Linked DNA regions of Homo sapiens. The protein of the gene in region 1 interacts with the protein of each later gene in a biochemical or structural test. Each region holds a gene or a part of one and is shown in the gene's direction. Other genes may lie near its edges.

Evidence for each region. Proteins that work in one complex are often made in the same cells at the same time.
Region 2: the proteins of NR1I3 (region 1) and CHD9 form a complex in vitro, tested with the Homo sapiens proteins (one study listed by BioGRID).
Region 3: the proteins of NR1I3 (region 1) and POU1F1 form a complex in vitro, tested with the Homo sapiens proteins (one study listed by BioGRID).

The regions. Positions count from the first base shown.
Region 1 is NC_000001.11:161,234,892-161,242,576, reverse strand, and holds the start of NR1I3 (nuclear receptor subfamily 1 group I member 3), read left to right. Parts: upstream 1-4,373; 5' UTR 4,374-4,516; coding exon of another isoform or gene 4,517-4,536; intron 4,537-5,978; 5' UTR 5,979-6,011; coding exon 6,012-6,118; intron 6,119-6,599; coding exon 6,600-6,730; intron 6,731-7,685. UniProt on the Homo sapiens protein: Binds and transactivates the retinoic acid response elements that control expression of the retinoic acid receptor beta 2 and alcohol dehydrogenase 3 genes.
Region 2 is NC_000016.10:53,050,771-53,057,990, forward strand, and holds the start of CHD9 (chromodomain-helicase-DNA-binding protein 9), read left to right. Parts: upstream 1-4,220; 5' UTR 4,221-4,307; intron 4,308-7,220. UniProt on the Homo sapiens protein: Probable ATP-dependent chromatin-remodeling factor. Acts as a transcriptional coactivator for PPARA and possibly other nuclear receptors. Has DNA-dependent ATPase activity and binds to A/T-rich DNA.
Region 3 is NC_000003.12:87,259,585-87,266,998, reverse strand, and holds part of POU1F1 (pituitary-specific positive transcription factor 1), read left to right. Parts: intron 1-2,486; coding exon 2,487-2,711; intron 2,712-4,763; coding exon 4,764-4,928; intron 4,929-5,665; coding exon 5,666-5,726; intron 5,727-6,894; coding exon 6,895-7,105; 3' UTR 7,106-7,414. UniProt on the Homo sapiens protein: Transcription factor involved in the specification of the lactotrope, somatotrope, and thyrotrope phenotypes in the developing anterior pituitary. Specifically binds to the consensus sequence 5'-TAAAT-3'. Activates growth hormone and prolactin genes.

The DNA.
Region 1 (7,685 bases):
AGGTCAGAAGATAGGAATGACAGGTCATGGCATTTGGTCATTTATAGGGAGTGAGGGAGAGAAAGGAGACTAGGTGACTCACCAGTTTCTGGTTTTGTATCTGGGAGAAGACAGCAGTAAAAGGGGAAGGAAACGAAGAAGGTAAGAGAATGAATATGTGTTGATTTCCTTCCATATTTCAAGCACCGTGTAAGGAATTTTACATTTTACTACTTTATTACTTTGTTTAATCTTCACAGCAAACCTGGATAATGAGTGTTTTAACCCTTTTTTTTTCCAGGTGAGAAAACTGAAATTCAGAGAGCTTAACCCATCAGGTCACAATCCTCACAGGTGTTTTTCAGACCCTGGCCTGGAAAAGGCATGTTGGAAGAGGGTGAGGGTGTCAGTTAACCCTGAAAGCCTGTTCACCATGGATGCCAGGGGCATCCTGCAGCAGATTCCACTCTCCATCTGCATTACAGCAGTGACCCTGAAGCCAGGGGAGGGTTTGTGTACACAGAAGAGCAAACTCAAAGCAGTCTGTTCCCAAGGCAACCCCATCTCAAAGAACTTCAAGGTGGACTTCTCCAAGAAGAACAAGGCTCGGTGTAATCCCTGGCCCCAGGTGAAGGGCATCCCTGGACCAGAACATCTTTCTAGCCTAGCCTCTCCCTAAGCATTCAAAGCTGATGTAGGAAGAGGAAGTATGCCTCCCTTCCCTGGTCCGGTATTGGCTCAGCCTGATGATATCTGATTCCCAGGGCCCCATGGAGCTGGGTCTCAGTCACGTCAAACAATTAGAGAAGTGGCAAAAAATAAGTAATTCAACTAGCAAGAGCCAGTCAGAATTTGAACCTAAGTCTATATGACCCCAAAGCCCATGTTCTTTCCACTTTCTCACATTGGACTAGTCACCAAGTTAGGTAACATAGGAAAAGTTAGTTTGTGGGGGATTGACAATTCAATTTGAGACATATTGAATTTGAGGTGTCTATGTGACATCCAAGTGGAGTCATCTAATAAACTGTTGGGTATATTGGCCCTTGTATAAGCTATCTAAACACTCTGAGCCTCAGTTTTCTCATCTGTAAAATGATGATATTACCTATCTTACAGTGTTAACACAGGCAAGGATTTTTACATAGTACTCTGCTCATACTGGGTACACAAGAAGAATAAATTAAGGGAGCAATTAATACCTATAATATTATACATAGTCTTTACCACAACCTTAAATCAAACATTTAAGGTTTGATTATATATTTTCTTTTAAGACCTAGGAATTCAATTTATGTATTCAGTCTTCATAATTAATCTGGAAGTGTCTCTGTAATAGGGACTCTCTTTTGTCTCTCCTTCTGGTGCCTAATCATGAGTGGACACTTGATAACTTATTGCTGGAGTAAATTGTCAACTGTGAAAATGGATTGGCACCCAAGTATGGAGGGCCCTTGTCCTTCTCCTGTAGTCTGTCTCCCAATTGGCGATACTACCATCCACTCAGTCACCCATGCCAGAAACCTGGAGTCATCTTTAATTCCTCGTCCTCTTTCTTAATCCAGGCACTCTAGTAGTCACCAAATTCCAATAATTCCACTTTCCATGTATTTCTCAAAACCCTCTCCTCCCCTACATCCTTCCACTATCTTAGCTCCAGCTTAATCTTCTCTCACCTACATTATGGCAATAGCTTTCTTCTTCTTCTTCTTTTTTTTTTTTTTTTTTTTTGGTAGGGGGGACGGAGTCTTCCTCTGTTGCCCAGGCTGGAATGCAGTGGTGCAATCTCGGCTCACTGCAACCTCTGCCTCCCAGGTTCACGCCATTCTCCGGCCTCAGCCTCCCAAGTAGCTGGGAGGCACCCGCCACCGTGCCCAGCCAATTCTTTGCATTTCTAGTAGAGACGGGGTTTCGCCGCGCTAGCCAGGATGGTCTCAATCTCCTGACCTCATGATCTGCCCATCTCGGCCTCCCAAAGTGCTGGGATCACAGGCATGAGCCACCACACCCGGCAGGCAATAGCTTACTAACTGGTCTCTTTGCCTTCAGTCCTACCCCCTCAAATCCAACAGCCAGCAGAGTAAATGATCTAGAATATAGACATGACAATGTCATTTCACAGCTTTCTCTTTCAAAGTTTCCTGATGGACTCAAAGTGTTTAGCCTGACACATGAGGTCTCCTGTGATCTGCCTACATCTCAGCCTTATATCCCACCTCTCCAGCCTTATCTCTTCCCACTCCCAGCCTGAAATGTTATACTCCAGTAAGAGAGGCCCGTCTGTGGTTCTACCATATCTACCTTTTTGTATCTGGCTTCTTGACCATCTCAGGTTGCACCCTCTGCCTGAACTGCCTTTTATATTCCCCCTAGCTAACTCATCATTACCCTGTAAAAGTCAACTCAGTTGCCACACCTCCAGAAAGCCTCTCCTGCCTCTTCCTCGACACCCCTTTTCCAAAGCAGAATTAGGTGCCCCGCTATTTCAGTGCCATAATGCTCTGTGCATGGCACCATCACTGATCTGACCATATTTCTTTATATCTGTGTAAAGGTCTGTCTCCCCCATTAGCGATTAAAATTCATGAGGGTAGGAGAGCATCTTACTCATCTTTTAACTCTAGTATCTAAGACATAGGTGGATTCTTGGTCAATATTTGTTGATTGAATAAATTAGTATGAATTGTCAGAGTCACAAAGACACCAACAGATACATACACATAAATATTCTTACCATCTCCCAAGGAACAGATCCAAGCATCTGTGCTCTCTGGAACTCAGTTTATTTCAAAATACAAAGTTATGCATAGTTAGATGCTATACCACTTGAGATTAGGGGTTCTACCAACTCATTCTGGTAACCTAAACAAGGATCTTTTTAACTCAGTCTCTCTCTCTGTGTGTGTGTGTGTGTGTGTGTGTGTGTGTATGACTCCAGCCTGCACTTGGGGTTTTAACTCATCTTTAGAGAAACATTAATTATAATTTAATGCAAATGAAGAAGCAGAAGACATAATAGCAAAACAAAGAAAAATAGGCCGGGCACAGTAGCTATTATTACAGGTGCACGCCTGTAATCCCAGCACTTTGGGAGGCCGAGGCGGGCGGATCACGAGGTCAGGAGTCCGAGACCAGCCTGGTCAACATAAACCCCAGCTCTACTAAAAGTACAAAAATTAGCTGGGTGTGGTCGCTCTGTCACCCAGGCTGGAGTGCAGTGCTGCGATCTCGGCTCACTGCAACCTCTGCCTCCCGGGTTCAAGTAATTCTCCTGCCTCAGCCTTCCACGTAGCTAGGAATACTAGCGTGCGCCACCATGCCTGGCTAATTTTTGTATTTTTAGTAAAGACAGGGTTTCACCACGTTGGCCAGATCTCTTGATCTCATGATCTGCCCAACTCGGCCTCCCAAAGTGCTGGGATTACAGGCATGAGCCACCCCGCCCAGCCAAAAAAAAAATATTTTTTAAAAATAGCACTTTATTATTATTATTATTAGAGATAGGGTCTTGCTATGTTGCCCAGGTTGGATTCAAACTCCTGGGCTCAAACCATTCTCTCCCTGTCTCCAGAGTAGGGGGATGTACAGGGCATGTCACTGTGCCCTGTGGTCACTCTGATTTGATTCTCAGCCCTCCCTAGTTAGGAAGTGAGAGGGCTCTTTCCGTAAGCTCTTACTTAGATCGTAGTCTCTCTCTCTCTCTCTTTTTTTTTTTTTTTTAGACGGAGTCTCACTTGTTCTGTGCCCAGGCTGGAGTTCAGTGGCATGATCTCAGTTCACTGCAACCTCCGCCTCCCGAGTTCAAGCAGTCCTCCCACCTCAGCCTCCCAATTAGCTGGGATTACAAGTATGTGCCATCATGCCCAGCTAATTTTTGTATTTTTAGTAAAGACAGGGTTTCACCATGTTATCCAAGCTGGTCTCGAACTACTGACCTCAAGTAACCTGCCTGCCTCAGCCTCCCAAAGTTCTGGGATTACAGGTGTGAGCCACCGTGCCCAGCCCCTAGTCTCTTAAAAACTTTTTTTGGGGGAGCCTTGTGGAACTGTCACACCTCTTCTTTTAGTACTGACATACTGCGTGTGAAAAAGCTTGCTCTGTCTGTCTGCCTGTCTCTCTCTCTCTCTCTCTCTTCCCAGCTTGTTCAGGATCTCTGTACACAGAAGGCTGCAGATGTAGCCTTAAACTCATCAACAGGGAAAATCTCGATGAGTCTAATAAGCAGCAGCTTCCAATGAGTCACAAGGTTCCCACCCACTGGAGTCCCTCCCCGTGTGCCACCAACCAGCACTTTTGTCATGCTGGGAAAACCTCCCACCCAGGCCTTTGCCCTGAGTCCAGGGTCTGTGCCCTAACCCCACAGTCACTGAGAGCAACTGGAGGCCACATAAAACAGACATCTCTTGTTTTCCAGATACTACGGGTCATAATCCCTAACTCCAATCACTGGCAACTCCTGAGATCAGAGGAAAACCAGCAACAGCGTGGGAGTTTGGGGAGAGGCATTCCATACCAGATTCTGTGGCCTGCAGGTGACATGCTGCCTAAGAGAAGCAGGTAGGAAATCTGTTGGGGACCAAAGACTAAATGTAATAAAATACAGATAATGCTGGGGGCTAGGCATAGTGGCTCACGTGTGTCATTCCAGCACTTTGGGAGGCCAAGGTGGGGGGATCGCTTGAGCCCAGGAGTTCAAGACCAACCTGGGTTACATAACAGACCCCATCTCTACAAAAAAGAAAGAAAAGAGGCCAGGCGCGGGAGCTCATGCCTGTAATCCCAGCACTTTGGGAAGCCAAGGTGGGAGGATTGATCACTTGAAGTCAGGAATTTGTTTTTTTGTTTTTTTGTTTTTTGTTTTGTTTTTTTGGGTTTTTTTTGAGATGGAGTCTCGCTCTGTCGCCCAAGCTGGAGTGCAGTGGCGCAATCTCGGCTCGCTGCAACCTCTGCCTCCCAGGTTGAAGCGATTCTCCTGCCTCAGCCTCCCAAATAGCTGGGACTACAGGCACATGCCACGATGCCCAGCTAATTTTTGTATTTTTAGTAGAGACGGGGTTTCACCATGATGGCCAGGATGGTCTCGATCTCATGACCTGGTGATCCGCCCACCTCGGCCTCCCAAAGTGCTGGAATTACAGGCATGAGACACTGCACCAGGCCTAAGTCAGGAATTTGAAACCAGCCTGGCCAATATGGTGAAACCCCATCTCTACTAAAAATAAAAAATTAGCTGGGCATGGTGGCGGGCACCTTAATCCCAGCTACTCAGGAGGCGGAGGCATGAGAATCACTTGAATCTGGGAGGCGGAGGTTGTAGCGAGCCAAGATTGCACCACTGCCCTCCAGCCTGGGTGACAGAGCAAGACTCAATTTCAGGGAAAAAAAAAAAAAGGAAAGAAAGGAATAAGAGAGGGAGGGAGGAAGGAAGGAAGGAAAAGAAAAAAATATCCTGGTGTGGTGGTGTGTACCTATAGTTCCAGCTACTCAGGAGGTTGAGGCAGGAGGATCCCTTGAGCCCAGGAGTGTGAGGTTACATTGAACTATGATGCACTCCAGCCTAGGCAACACTAGGCAACAGAGTAAGACTCTATCTCAAAAAACAGAACAAACAAATAAACAAAAAAAAATAAACAAAAAAACCAACCTGGGCAACATGGCAAAACCCCATCTCTACAAAAAAAATAAATAAATAAATAAACAAAAATTAGCTGGACATGGTGGTCTGGACCTGTAGTCCCTGCTACTCAGGAGGCTGAAGTGGAGGATTGCTTGAGCCCAGGAGGCAGAGGTTGCAATGAGCAGAGATCTAGCCTAGGTGACAGAGCAAGAACTTGTGTCAGAAAAAAAAGAAAAAGAAAAAGAAAAAGAAAACCACAAAAGATAACGCCAGGGATCAAGTCAAGGGCATGTTTGGTTTGGTTTGGAAAGAGACTCTCTAGAAGGGACAGAAAAGGGTCAAGGGTGGCCCAAAACTGACTGCTGACCCCTCCTACATTCAGGAGTCTGTGACAGCCACCCCAACACGTGACGTCATGGCCAGTAGGGAAGATGAGCTGAGGAACTGTGTGGTATGTGGGGACCAAGCCACAGGCTACCACTTTAATGCGCTGACTTGTGAGGGCTGCAAGGGTTTCTTCAGGTGAGAGTCTCCTCCCCAATGGAAATAGCCCTCCAAACCAAACTCCCTATTAGTCAGCCTTTACACCCTCGCTGGTGCCCAAGCCTGTCCAGCTACATTACTCCTTTATCTTAGAGTCTAACTACCCTGTGGCTGGCATCCTACATCTTGCCAAACACATCACTGTATAAACTGGTGGCATAACAGAGGGAAAGCTGAATGTTTGTCTGATGGACACAGCCCATTAGTCAAGAGCATTTATTATGTACCCACTGCCTGTGAAGCACCTAGCTAGTACTACATCAACTAGGCTTTCTGGAGTGATCCTGTGTTGCCATGGAAATGCTTGAGATGTGTTGGATACTATCCACCCCTGGGGACCTTTGGGCACAGCTCAGATTAGTCCATTTCACCAGATTCCCAGGTCTTTTAGACCATGTCATCTCAGCCCCTCACCTATCCATTGCATCCCAGACTCTAACAACATCTCTGTGTCTCACAGGAGAACAGTCAGCAAAAGCATTGGTCCCACCTGCCCCTTTGCTGGAAGCTGTGAAGTCAGCAAGACTCAGAGGCGCCACTGCCCAGCCTGCAGGTTGCAGAAGTGCTTAGATGCTGGCATGAGGAAAGACAGTGAGTTGGCCCCCTACATCTCAAGAATCCATTGACTGCGTCTGTCTTTGTCCTTGTTCCCAACAGTGCATTCTCTACATAGCAGGCACAGTACTCTTTTTGAAACTAGTTGGATTATGTCACTATTCACTCAAGACATCCAATGGCTCCCCATCTCAAAGTACGTGATCTCATGATCTAGCTCTCCCACAACACCTTTCAGACTTTATTTCATACTCTTCCCCCTTTACTCAACCAATTCTAGCCACACTGACTTCACTGTCATTCTTAGAAACACCAGGCCGGGCGCGGTGGCTCACGCCTGTAATCCCAGCACTTTGGGAGGCCGAGGCAGGCGGATCACGAGGTCAGGAGATCGAGACCATTCTGGCTAACACAGTGAAACCCCGTCTCTACTAAAAAAATACAAAAAAAATTAGCCGGCCGTAGTGGCGGGCGCCTGTAGTCCCAGCTACTCGGGAGGCTGAGGCAGGAGAATGGCGTGAACCCGGGAGGCGGAGCTTGCAGTGAGCCGAGATCGCGCCACTGCACTCCAGCCTGGGTGACAGAGCCAGATTCCGACTCAAAAAAAAAAAAAAAAAAAAAAAAAACACCAAGCGCACTCTTCCCCAAGGCTTTTCCACTTGCCATTTCCTCTACCTGAAATGCTTTTCTCCTAGATAGCCACATGGCTAGTCTTGTCTTTTCTTTTCTTTCTATTTTTTTTGATAGAGTCTCATACTCTGTTGCCCAGGCTGGAGTGCAGTGGCGCCATCTCGGCTCACTGCAACCTCCGCCTCCTGCGTTCAAGTGATTCTCCTGCCTCAGCCTCCTGCATAGCTGGGATTACAGGCATGTGCCACCACACCCAGCTAATTTTTTGTATTTTTAGTAGAGATGAGCTTTCACCATGTTGACCACGCTGGTCTCAAACTCCTGGCCTCAGGCGATCTGCCCACCTCCGCCTCCCAAAGTG
Region 2 (7,220 bases), on another chromosome or scaffold:
TTTGGCATTTCTCCCTCTTTCCTTCTCTACGCCTTCTGCTGGGGACCTGACACCATCTTGCCCATGACTCCAGTGCCACCATTTCTAGCTCCATCCACTTTAGACCACAGAGGATCCTCACCCTCTTTTTTTTTTGAGACGGAGTCTCGCTCTGTCTCCCAGGCTGGAGTGCAGTCGTGCGATCTTGGCTTACTGCAAGCTCCGCCTCTCGGGTTCACGCCATTCTCCTGCCTCAGCCTCCTGAGTAGCTGGGACTACAGGCGCCCACCACCATGCCCAGCTAATTTTTTGTATTTTTAGTAGAGACAGGGTTTCACCGTGTTAGCCAGGATGGTCTTGATCTCCTGACCTCGTGATCCGCCTGCCTCGGCCTCCCAAAGTACTGGGATTATAGGTGTGAGCCACTGCCTCTGGCCTGATCCTCACCCTCTTTAATGGAGACTCACTCTAGAAGATAAATATTCCCTTTCTTACTAAAAATTAGGTCACATCTCATAACATAATTTTATGAATTTATTTTAAAAAACAAAAGTAAACAAAATTTTCCCTTTGAAGAAAAGGGTGAACAGAACAAGAAAGCAAAAGGGATAAAAATGAGTAAATGTCCAACAATGATAGTCTGGATTAAGAAAATGTGGCACATATACATCATGGAGTACTATGCAGCCATAAAAAATGATGAGTTCATGTCCTTTGTAGGGACATGGATGAAGCTGGAAACCATCATTCTCAGCAAATGATCGCAAGGACAAAAAACCAAACACCGCATGTTCTCACTCATAGGTGGGAATTGAACAATGAGAACACTTGGACACAGGAAGGGGAACATCGCACACCGGGGCCTGTTGTGGGGTAGGGGGAGGGGGGAGGGATAGCATTAGGAGATATATCTAATGTAAATGACAAGTTAATGGGTGCAGCACACCAACATGGCACATGTATACATATGTAACAAACCTGCACATTGTGCACCTGTACCCTACAACTTAAAAGTATAAATATATATATATATATATATATATATATATATATATATATATAATGAGTACCTTGCCTATCCTGTTCCATATATAAAGCACAGCGTCCAGCACATAGTAGGTGCTTAGTAAACAGTAGTGAGGTGTTCAGGGCATGTGCCTTGGAATAAGATAATCCAGATTCACGTTCTGGGTACATTACTTGCTAACTCCTCTACCTAGGGCAAGTTACTTAAACATCGCAAGTCTCAGTTTCTTCGCTGAGAAAGTGGGGAGAGTAACAGTGCCTACTTTGTAGGATTACTGTGAAGATTAAACTAAATTGTCAATCTAAAATCCTTAGTGCATGAGCCAGGTATGGCAGCTTGTGTCTATAATCCCAGCTACTTAGGAGGTTGGGGTGGGAGAAATGCTTGATGCTAGGAGTTCTAGACCAGCCTGAGCAACATAAAAAAAAAAAAAAACAATAAACCCCATCTCTTAAAAAAAAAAGAAATTAAAATTTAAAAATTAGCCAGGCATGGTGGCACATGCCTGCAGTCCCAGCTACTTGGGAGTCTGAGGTGGGAAGATCCCTTGAGCTCGAATTTGTGGCTGCAATGAACAATGATCACCTGGATGACAGAACAAGACCCCATCTCTTAAAGAAAACTGTTAGTGTCTAACACGTTATAAATATTTTATTATTGTTATTTACATACTTCAGCCTACCAAAACTCCTGTTTTCCATGGAGAAAACAGATCTGTTGATAACTCTGCAGTTTCCAGAAACACTGTGATTAGCAGAATGAGAAAAATGCCAGGAGAACTCAGAAGAGAAAGTCACTAGGAAGACTTAATCTCATCAGGTGATGCCAGAATCCAGAGGTTGTAATCTAGGACTTTGCCCAGGCATGCTTTGGGGCACAGTGGTGGGGAGGGAGCTGTTGCAAAGATGGGGCAAGAATGGTCTGGACATGACTCAGACACTTTAAAGTGAAAGAATGGGAAATTGTCTGGCAGCTGGTACTTACCATGGGCAGTCAGCACTCCTCTGACTGATTCACCTTCACCAGGGCACCAGCCTGCAGTGAAGTAGCTGGGGCTGGTTCCTTTTAGTGACACCCACCACCCCTTGCCCTTCCAGGTATTGTCCACAGATGACACCTCCTCCTCCTCCTCCTGCTCCTCCTCCTGCTCTGCCTCCTCCTCCTCCCCCTGCTCCTGCTTCTCCTCCTCTTCCTCCTGCTCCTTCTCCTCCTCCTCCTGCTCCTCCTCCTGCTCTTCCTCCTCCTCCTGCTCTTCCTCCTCCTCCTCCTGCTTCTCCTCCTCTTCTTCCTCCTGCTCTTTCTCCTCCTCTTCCTGCTCCTCCTCTCCTTCTGCTCCTCCTGCTTCTCCTCCTCCTGCTCCTCCTCCTCCACCTGCTCCTCCTCCTTCTCCTCCTCCTGCTCCTCCTCCTTCTGCTCCTTCTTCTCCTGCTCCTCTTCCTCCTGCTCCTGCTTCTCCTCCTTTCTCCTGCTCCTCCTCCTCCTGCTCCTCCTCCTGCTCCTCATCCTCCTTCTCCTCCTGCTCCTCCTTGTCCTCCTCTGCCCTTGATATTCACTTTGACCAGATTACACCAGTACAGAGAGTCCAAAGGTTAAATAGGCACACACTCACACACAAACTCACACTGGGCTAGAACAATGACAGAGCGTCCTGGGGGAGCAGAGTGGGGGCCGGGGGGAGGGGGAAAGGAGGATTGCAGGCCTAACTTTCACAAATCACCTGAAATTTCCACTGAAGGCATTATCTCCAAATGTTGCCACAGAGATAAACTGCCAGGATTACAAGAAAACGTGAAGACGTTCCCATAGAACTCTGTAATGCTTATATCCATCACCAGGAATGTCTGCCCTTGGCGCCCTAAACATAGATTGATTGATTGATTGATTGATTGATTTTGAGGCAGAGTCTCACTCTGTCACCCAGGCTGGAGTGCAGTGGTGCGATCTCAGCTCACTGCAACCTCCTCCTTCCGGGTTCAAGGGATTCTCCCACCTCAGCCTTGGAGTAGTTGGGATTACAGGCTCCTGCCACCACGCCCGGCTAATTTTTGTATTTTTTGTAGAGACTGGGTTTTGCCATGTTGGCTAGGCTGGTCTCAAACTCCTGACCTCAAGCGATCCTCTTGCCTCAGCCTTCCAAAGTGCTGGGATTACAGGCGTGAGCTACGGTGCCTGGCCCTAAATATAGATATTTTTAATAAATCCTCTACTTATCTCACAACGAGCTCAATCGCTTTGCATTAGATCGTTGGGTGTGTTAAAAGTATTCATGTGTTACATTAAATGTGAATTCAACAAAAGCAGAGATTTTTGTGTTTTGTTCTTCATTGTATCCCTTGATTGTAGAAAAGTGGCACATAGTAGGTGCTCAGTTAATCGTTGTTAAATGAAGACATAAATGAAATATAAACCATTAAATGTCCACCATATTTGTAAGCGTTTTGGCATGTCTTCATTGAAAGAATACCAGGCAGCTGGGAGCCATAGTTTACTCCGGTAATCCCAGTGCTTTGGGAGGCTGCAGGTGAGAGGATCGCTTGAGACCAGGAGTTCAAGAGCCACCAGGGCAACATAGAGAGACCTTGTCTCTACAAAAACAAAACAAAACAAAACAAAAAACAAAAAACACAATTCCCTTAAGCCGCCCCTTCCCCTTCCACTGCTCAGAGAAGGCCTTCCAGCAGAGCAGAGCACGAGGTCGCTGGCACACACCCATCCTCCACCAGTCCTGGCCTCTGTAGAGCAAGCCAGCAGAGCAGGCTGTTTCTCTCATTCAGGGACGGTTTAGGGGGTGGCAGGAAAAAATGGTTGCTGATAGGCGAAGGGCCTCCCTGGGTTGGAGAGAACCCCAGCCTCGGATGGTCCCAGCACATTTAAAAGAGAAGCAGTGCCAAAGGTGGGGTGCACTGAAAGCTGCTGGATGAAGGGAAAGATCCTTGTGCTCAGCCCGGAAAACCGGAGGATGGATACCAGGCCGAGGGGTCCCTCCGTGCCCCAAGAGAAAGTTCACCAAGTTTAGATCCCAGTGCCCCGCAGCGGGTGAAGGTGGTCCCGCCCCAGGCCGGATCTGGCCACAGGGCTGGCGGCGCGCTGGAAAACCGCCCACGTGGGAAGAAGCCCTGGCTGCATTTCCGCCCTGGACTGCGCTCCCGCCTGCCAGCGCGGTCCCTGCGCAGCCGCCCCGCGCCCACTAGGTGGCGCCTGCGCTCTAGTGGGCGCTTCACAGGCGCAGCGACAGCGACAGCGACAGCTCGAACCTGAGTCCCAGGATTCCGGGGACTGGAGGGCAGCGCCGGCAGCCAAGGTAGGATTCCTGAGCCCCGGGCGTCTCCCTGGAGCCTCTGAGGTCGGGGTGGACAGCGGGGCGGCCGCTGGGCACCGCTTGCGGTCTGCAGAGATAACCGGAGGAGTCGGGGCGGCAGCACGTGTTGTAGCCGTGGGGGGGACCCAGAGACCCGCAGCCTCGGAGCTGGGCCTAGAGCAAGGCAGAGCACCAGGTCGCTGGCACGCTCGCATCCTCCCCAGCCCTCGCCTCCCAGAGCATGCCCGAATCCCCAAGCCGGGCGTCCTCGAAGCGGAAAGCAGCCACTGTCGCCCAGAGCCACTCCAGGGTGGCAGCCGAGTGCTGATAAGGTCCAGAGCACCACTTCTTAAACTTGTCTGCCCGTTGGCGTTGCTTGGGAAGCATTAAAAAAATACCGATGCCCTAGTTCCACCCCCGCCCCCCCCCAGAGACTCAGATGTGATTGGTCTGGGTGGGGGACTGGACATCTGGGTATTAAAATGTTTGCAAGAGATTCCAGCTGGCAGCCAAATTTGAGGACCCTTGATCTAAGGAGTTGGAGAAAAACGGAGGACATTTGTTTGTTCTAACCCAGAATGCTGATGATTCCCTCCTCCTCCTATTCCTCCAGTTCGCCCTCCTCCTCCTTTCTCATGTGCCTTTTAAGCAGGAAATGCCTCTGCCTTTGTACTGTCAAACCCAAGATAACAAACTAACCATCCCCCACCCCCCACAGTAGGGCTGGTTCTGAAAGGGTTGAACTCGAAAGTGGACAAGGAACAGAAAGACACCAGTGTGGAATGTGAGCGAAGACTCTTAGGGGTTTATGGGTAGGAAGGGGGTTCCTCCCCACCCTGATCCCAGAGAAGATCAGGAGACTGGCTGGAGCTGTCTTCCTCATTTTGGCAAACCTAGCTGATTAGGCAGTGAGAGGCCTTATAACGAGCCTTTTTTACAACTAGTAAAAGGGCCCTTTTACAACTAGTAAAAATGAGCCCTTATGTTTGTTTGTTTTATAGAGATAGGGCCTCACTATATTCCCCAGGATGGTCTCAAACTCCTAGGCTCAAGCCATTCTCCAGCCTCGGCCTCCCAAAGTGCTGGGATTATAGGCATGAGCCGCTGCGCCCCGCTGACCCCTTATGTTTATATAACAGCAGTGTTACTAACATGGGCATAGATTCCCCCCCATAGGCAGCCCTTCCTTTGTGACCTTGGAAACTCACTGAACCATCCTCAGCTTCAGTTTTTGTATCTGCAAAATGGGTGTGAAAATCGGGTTGCCTTGGGAATTATTCACAATAAAAGCTACTGTTTACTAAGGGTTCACCCTATGCTAGAGGCTTTCTGTGCAGGGCCAAGTTAGACTCCTGACCATAACTTCCACGGTAGAACTATGAATACTGCATTTGATAGCCAAGGAAACTGAGGCTCAGAGAGGCCAATGATCTTGCTCGAAGTTATATAATTAATTAATAAGAAGCATGTCCCATATTTGAACCCAGGCAGTCTGCTCTTGAGCTCAGGTGCAAAAGAACAATACTCTGCTGTTTCCCTTGTTGACCAGGACAGCGTGCACGGGGCAGGCGCGTGGTGTGTCTTCACAAACACTAGCTATCACTGCTGTGAGCTGAGCACTTCCACTGAATTGACTCATTCGCTCATTGGAAATACATTTATTATTGAGAGCCTACTGTGGGCCAGGCAGTTTTCCAGATGCTAGAGATAAAATATGAGTAAGACAGAATTCAGCCAGCCCCGAATGAGAGAAACAGGAAGAAAGTGCAGTAGATTCTCATTATTCACAAGTTCTAAATTTGCAAATTCTTCCCTGTAATCCCAGCACTTTGAGAGGCTGAGGCAGGAGGATCGCTTGAGGCTAGGAGTTTCAGATCAGCCTGTGCAACAGAGCAAGGCCCTGTTTGCTTAAAAATTATACACATTGAATAATTCTTAAAAAAAATTTGTTTGTGGCCAGGCATGGTGGCTCATGCATATAATCCCAGTACTTTGGGAAGCTGAGGCAGAAAGATTACTTGAGGCTAGGAGTTCCAGATCAGCCTGGGTAACACAGTAAGACCCTATATCTTTATTTTAAAAATTATATAATTAAAGAATTTTTAAAAAAATATGTTTGTGGCCGGGTGTGGTGGCTCACACCTGTAATCCCAGCACTTTGGGAGACTGAGGTGTGAGGTTAGGAGTTTGAATTTAGGAGTTTGACACCAGCCTAATCACTTGAGCTAAGGAGTTTGAGACCAGCCTGGACAGCATAGAGAGACCTTGGCTCATTTAAAAAAAAAAAGAGGAAAAAAGGCCGGGTGCAGTGGCTCATGCCTGTAATCCCAGCACTTTGGGAGGCCGAGGTGGGTGGATACCTGAGGTCAAGAGTTCGAGACCAGCCTGGCCAACATGGCAAAACCCCGTCTCTACTAAAAATTCAAAAAATTAGCTGGGCGTGGTGGCAAGAGCCCGTAATCCCAGCTGCTTGGGAGGCTGAGGCAGGAGAATTGCTTGAACCTGGGAGGTGGAAGTTGCAGTGAGCCAAGATCACGCCATTGTACTCCAGCCTGGGCAACAACAGCGAAACTCCATCTCAAAAAAAAAAAAGAAAGAAAAAAGAAAAATAATGTCTGCGTAACTTCCAAATCAATATCCATGACACTTTCACAGTCATATATGGATGCACGTAGAATAGTGAAAAAGTTGAGTCACCCAACGTGCACATTTCCAGCCAAGGGCAAACAGGAGGACACGCTGCTTTCTGGTTTCAGCTCTTGTGCTATAAACAAGTGTCCCTTTTGTGGTGTACTTAGTGCCACATTTTTTGCATGTTTGTGTGTTTTTGTTTGTGATGTCGCTGTTTGAAATGGCCCCAAGTGTACAGTTGACGTGCTGTCTAGTGTTCCTAAGTATGAGAAGGCTGCGATGTGC
Region 3 (7,414 bases), on another chromosome or scaffold:
AGTAGCCTGGCTTTTCTTTGTACTCTTTCTCAGGGTATTTTATCATTAAATGTATTAAGTGATACCTGATGGACCTAAATAATCAAAGAAGTGAAGGTTTTATAAATATATGTGAGAATCAATTCTGAAAGCATAAGCACAAAACAAGTCTTCAGATAAATATGAGATTAAATAAATGATAACATAAATGTCATCAATTTTCTTTTACATCTATTAGTCCTTCTTTTAATTTAGCAGAAAATTAAAATTAATAAAAAGCTAAAAATAAACCCCACGGCAATAAATATTTTCAAGAAAAGCTATATAATAAAAGAAAAGTTGGTAAAATTGCTTTTAAAAATGTTCTCTTGTCTGATCAAGATGCCACACAATAAAGCATAAAATGGATAGTTAACTGACTTTTACAAAAGTAAACCTGGATAATTTTGGTTTGTAAAAGTAGCAGGAATTTTTTAAAGACAAAAATAATTTCTTTCACATCTTTTCCCAGCTTTAGAGCAGATAAATTTATGTTATGCTAATTTGTTTAATCTCTCATTTGTATGTTTACTTTGTTTTAGAAAAAATAATATACCCTATTAGATATAATTACATATTTATAATTACATATTTTTATATAAATTTATAATTATATATTTATAATTACACATTTATAATTATATATTTATAATTACATATTTTATATAAATAATACATTAAATTAAATTTATATAAAATTTAATACATTAAATTAAATTTATATAAAATATAAATTTTATATAAATAAATTAAATTAAATAAATAACTACATATTTATGATTACATATTTTTATATAAAAAATATAAACCAACAATTTGCTGAGTTACGGTATTCTTTGCTCATTATATATTGATATATTAATGTAAGATTTCTGTATTCTGGAAAATATATTATTACTCATGTCTTTGATTTGAGAATGTATGTGTGGAGAAATTATAGGTAGCATGAACTCTTGATGCATTTTTTTCCAGTAAGTTTCTAAGAATAATTATTGCATGTATTCCATAGTAATTTATTTTAAAATATTTATATTTATAAGAAAATGATTAATTACTCAATATTTTTATATAAAAATGTCTTGCTTATACAATCATCCTTCTATGTGGCACATTGGTTCCAGGACCCCCAAGGATACCAAAATCTTTCGATGCTCAAGTCCCTGGTATAAAATGGTGTAGTATTTGCATATAACCTAGGCACATCTTCTACCTTAAATCATCTCCAGATTACTTATAATATCTAAATCAATGTAAATGCTATGTAAATAATTGTTATACTGTATTGGGTTTTTTATTTGTATCATTTTTATTCTTGTGTTGTTATTTTTTACTTTATTTTTTAAGTGTATTTAATTCATGGTTGCATCAATCCATGAATGCAGAACCCATGGATATGGAAGGCACACTAGACATGTCATTTAATATAAATTGAAGTAGAATCTTTGTCGATAAAAATTGTAATGTATTGATAAAGAAAACAAGAAACAAAATGTGTTGGAATTTGGCTTATATACTGTCCTCTCACCTATACTTCCCAACTGAGATAGACTCTTCCAATGAAAAAGGAAATCTGGAAGCAATTGTGTAATAATTTCAGACCTTTTTACATTTTTTGTGATTTAACATATCCACTCAGTAGAGTCAATGCTTTACCATTTATCGGTAATCACTTATCATATATAAAGTTGCAAACTTTCTTGCTTCTTATATTTGCTTTTCCTTAAATAATAATCAAGAAATTATTCTATTATATTGTATATTTTTCAAGAAATCTTGTTAGTGACTTTTTAATAGAACTTTTAAGGTTACCTTTTGTTAATATTTAATCACTCCTCAAGCCTATTTAGCCATATTAATATACTTTATATTCTCATCATTCTCTTTCTGCCTACCTTCATTTAATTAAAAAAGATGTGATTATTTCTTAATAAAATCAAGTTTTTACTGATTAAATAGTGGGGCGTTTTTATATTGTGAAATCAATTTCCCAATCACAAGAAAACTTCTCAGCATAGCACTTAGCCGAAGCATTTAGTGCCATGATCACAACAAACATCACCCATTATTTATTCAATGAATTAAGAAAACAGAGTTCAATGCATAGACTCTGGTTAGAGTTCAACCTCAGATTCCCAGGAATAGGTGTCATTTAAGAGAAAAACATGATAGAAAATGTATGCTTCTGAGAGAAGTTGTTTGTTTCTATTTTAGTTATTTGCAGTCCCCTGCTTCTTTCCTTTAACCCTATCTTTGGTTTTGCTGCTCTGGAGAAGGTAGAAGACAAATAATCTCAATTCTACTAAGCTACTTTGACTCCTTCTTCGGAAGACTGAATGTAAGGTAACCTTGTAAGTACTGAGACAGGCTAGAGCAGAATAATGGGCTAAGTCAGGCAAAACCCTTTCTTATATAGAAATAAGGAGAATGACAAATGGTCTTTTTCATTTTATTTCTTTGTTTACTCACAGGTAGTTTAACCCCTTGTCTTTATAAATTTCCTGACCACACCTTGAGTCATGGATTTCCTCCTATACACCAGCCTCTTCTGGCAGAGGACCCCACAGCTGCTGATTTCAAGCAGGAACTCAGGCGGAAAAGTAAATTGGTGGAAGAGCCAATAGACATGGATTCTCCAGAAATCAGAGAACTTGAAAAGTTTGCCAATGAATTTAAAGTGAGACGAATTAAATTAGGTATGTGCTTGTTAAAGGCAACAGGAAAAAGAACTTGGTTTGCAAATCTTTATTGCTGTTAAATCTCTTATATATTGCTAAAAAGTACAAGATGATTCTCATTCTTCATCTCTACTGTGGACGTAGTTAGTCGTTATGGAAATCCTCCAAAAACATTTGTTTCCTTATAATTTCTTAAGAGCCTAAATACATAATTTTTAAATTAATAATACTCTTTCAAAACTTACCTCAACATTAGTTTTGAAGTGCCCATTTTTATCTATATTTTATTTGAAATTTTGAATAGGCCATACATTTATATGATTCAAAAGTACAAAAGAGTATAAGTGACATGTATCCCTTCTGCTTGCTTTTTCTGTATATCGTTGTTAGTTCCTTGTGTATCTTTCCAATGATATCTCATGGATATATAAGTAAATATATATGGAAATATATGTATTGTGCCAAACATATGTATTATTTGAAGTTTTCAGTAGTAATTTTTCTAGAGCTCCTTTTCCTTTGTGGGGCTGTCAAGTTCCACTTTATGAATATACTGCAATTTATTTGACCAGTCCTCTACTGATGAAATTTAGGTGGTTTCTGATCTTTGGCTGATAAAAACGATACCACGATGATTAACCCTATAAATGTTATTTTGCACTCATATAAATATATGCGCAGCAAAAATGTTAGAAGCACAATTGCTTGATCAAAAGTATGTGTACTGGTAATTTTGATAGATGTTATCAAACTGGTCTCTAGAGAAGTTGTACCAAATTTTACTACTACCATGAGAATCTTTTTCACCATCCTCAGGCTATATAAACTCCAAAACGGCATGAGTTTTTAAAATCTATTTCTTTTTATTTTCTCCTTAATGATATCTCCAGCATCTAGAAGAGTATAACTATAACACAAAATAAATAAATGGTGGTTGAAAGAAAAAATATGCTGTTAATCTTTTAGATCTTTGCAAATCAGACAGGTCAAAGTGACATCTCACTGTTTTTTCATTTAAAATTTCTTTTATTATGAGTGTAAAGTATATTATTTAATATGCTTGACAATCATTTATATTTCCTTTTCTGTGAACTATCTGTTCAGAGCCTTTGCTCATTTTCTACTGAAGTGTTTTTAAAATAAAACAACTATAACAATTGACTTTGGTTAAATTGCATAAAATTGTGTATTTTTTTAATGGATTGAAATAATAGTTCAAACCTCTGCACTTGCAGAATGAACAATAGATAATGTAATAAGAATATTTATTGATGGGCATCATATGCAACCATTTTATACATATAGGTATATAGCCTTAGGTCCTGAAATAATATGTAGCTATTACATGTGATAAGCACAGTAGTAGGAATCTTTGTGAAATTCATTTTCAGTTTTCTATCTATATTACTGTGAATGTTTCAAATTATATGTTATTTCAGCTGTACTCTAAAAATGTTTGCGACAAACAATAAGGATCATTAGTCTGAAGACAGAGGCATTATCAAAAACTATAAAATGGGCTCAGAAGTATACATGAAATGTGTAATCATAGCCTCTTAATAAATATGGTTTTAGGGAAAGTGACATAATTCTTAGTTTTATTTAGTACCCTTCAACAATATCATTGAATCTTTTAGAGTTGAAATAAGAATGTTATGATATATAACCGTATATTTTATGCATTATAGTTAATATATTAAAATTTTTTGAGCATATATTATTTGATAACTAACAATAATGATAAAAAAGCCATAATTTTCAAGTGCCTTATGAAGTGTTTAGGACACACCTAAACACTGGTTAAATATTATGAATGGCAGATGTTTCTATCTGAATTCTTTCAGTGACTAGATAAAAGTAATTTATTAACTAGAAGAAATATGTTTTGAAGTATTGCACAAGTACTTCAAAGTATAATGAATCTTACTAAATAATTCTGATTTGCCAAGAATATATAGTTAAAAAATAGTGTGTAATAGTTGACAAAGATACACAGATTTGTGTGACAATGAACCAAAATTAACATTTCCTGGAAAGTTGGAGCTGATGGTCTTTATTGTCCCTTCACAGGATACACCCAGACAAATGTTGGGGAGGCCCTGGCAGCTGTGCATGGCTCTGAATTCAGTCAAACAACAATCTGCCGATTTGAAAATCTGCAGCTCAGCTTTAAAAATGCATGCAAACTGAAAGCAATATTATCCAAATGGCTGGAGGAAGCTGAGCAAGTAGGAGGTACTAAATTGTGTCTCTGAAGGCTGTGCTGTGTTTTAACCTAAAAATAATGGCTTCAATAAGTAGGATTAATGCTAAAGCAGGAGGTTTGAGGGGTTTTTTTCCGCCTTTTCTCTTTGAGATGAAAAATAAACATTTTGTTATATCACACTAAAACAAACAACAAAAAAGGAAGGGCAATGTAAGTGTGGAAATAAATTTATTGAGGATAGAATAACCTATATAAGGAAAGCTTGTTGGCATCAGCATGAAGGGGTAAAATACTTATTTTTTTACACATCCATTTTTTTCCTCTCTTTTATACTAGAGAAATTATATATGAATCACATTTGTATCCTAATATTAGTGTACACAAAACATTTGCACACACCAGTCTTCCAAGAAAATAATATAAGCAATTGCTAGATATGCAACTTAATGAGCTAAAATTATCTACTCATACAAATGTCAGAGCCTGATAAAGAGTGAGGTTTGAGAGTATTTACAGCAAGCATTCCAACAAAAGTAAAGTGAGGATATTATTTGTAGAAAGTGTCTTTGCAAGGTTAATATTTATTTCTGCGTTGAGATTTTTCTCTAAGGTCTGTAATAGAAAAAGACTGCAAAAATTTAAGACAAAAATGTCTAGCATTTTTATTTTGCATTGTTTTATGAAGAAAATTTGAAATCCAAATCAGATCGTTTTTTATAAAAAGTCTACTTTGTGTTTGTAATTATCTCTCTTTTCCACATTATAGCTTTGTACAATGAAAAAGTGGGAGCAAATGAAAGGAAAAGAAAACGAAGAACAACTATAAGGTATTCTTTATATTAAAAGTTACTAGAGGACAAAACTGGTATTTTATAAATGGAATGAGCATTTGAGTGTAATGCAGGTGTAACATAACATATAAATGTAAGGTGAATTGGGAGGCCAAGGCGGGCCTGAGGTCAGGAGCTCGAGACCAGTCTGGCCAACATGGTGAAACTCTGTTTCTACTAAAAATACAAAATTTAGCCGGGCATGGTGGTGGGTGCCTATAATCCCAGCTACTCAGGAGACTGAGGCAGGAGAATGGCTTGAACCTGGGAGGCGGAGGTTGCAGTGATCCGAGCTTGCGCCACTGCACTCCAGCTTGGGCGACAGAGCGAGACACCGTCTCAAAATAAATAAATAAATAAATAAATAAATAAATAAATAAATAAATAAATAAATAAAAAAAAAATAATAATAATGTAATAACTTAATTTTGAGAAATGGAGAGCTAATAATTTTCAACATTTGATGGAAAATTATGTATTGTTTGATTCAAGAACACTTTTACTCCAAAATTTTGAATACAAACAGAAAGAAAACAATCATTTCTAAGAGACTGGCCATATCTTCTCCCCTTTTAGCTATAACTTATTGCTCTGACAATGTAGTATCCATGGTGTCTATAGTATTTAAAAATGTGACACTAGTAATCAGTGTTTCGGTCTCTTCAAGTTCAACATGACCTCTTGCATTTCAACCCAGAAAGATTGTTCATTGATCTTTTTGTAGTTTCTGTGAGACATGCTTAGCAAATACTAAAAGACAGGTTTTGTTTTGGTTGGTCAGTTGTTTACTAGAGATTTCCTTTATCGTAAACAGCCCTAAATGATTTTGGGGAGATATTTAGAAATGTCTAGGAAAATGTTCATTTTCTTCTCAAGAACTCAGTGCCCTCTGGTGGCACAAAGTGGGAAAAACATAGAAAGTCTGGGTCCCCTACTTAATGCTTTCCGTGACTCTCGTGTAACTCTACCTTACATAAGACAAAATATCTACATATTTAACACATTATACATTTGTCCTTGTTAAAGTGTCCTGCAAGTGTGTTCAGAGTTTTTAAGTTTCCTTTTCATGTTAATATTGAGGAAATTCAACCTACCTTAATTTTGAGCTGCCAAAAACTTCACTAAAAACAACAAAATTTCACCCCCTATGTCCACCCCCCGCCAGCATTGCTGCTAAAGATGCTCTGGAGAGACACTTTGGAGAACAGAATAAACCTTCTTCTCAAGAGATCATGAGGATGGCTGAAGAACTGAATCTGGAGAAAGAAGTAGTAAGAGTTTGGTTTTGCAACCGGAGGCAGAGAGAAAAACGGGTGAAAACAAGTCTGAATCAGAGTTTATTTTCTATTTCTAAGGAACATCTTGAGTGCAGATAAGATTTTTCTATTGTATAATAGCCTTTTTCTCCCGTTTCATTCCTTTCTCTTCCTCAACAAAAACAGAAATTACTTGGTTGACTTAAAATCATTTTATATCAATAGCTTTTACAGAAGCTTTACTTTTCCACTTTTTTTTAAAAAAAAGAAACCAACAATTTAAATTATATTGATGTTATTTACTTAAAATAATTATTCTCAGAAGCCACATTATCTATTTTAAGCCAAATATATTAACAGTAATAAAATGATCTCTCTGTCTCTCCCGCTCTCTTTCTCACACACACGCAGACATATGAGTATGGGTTT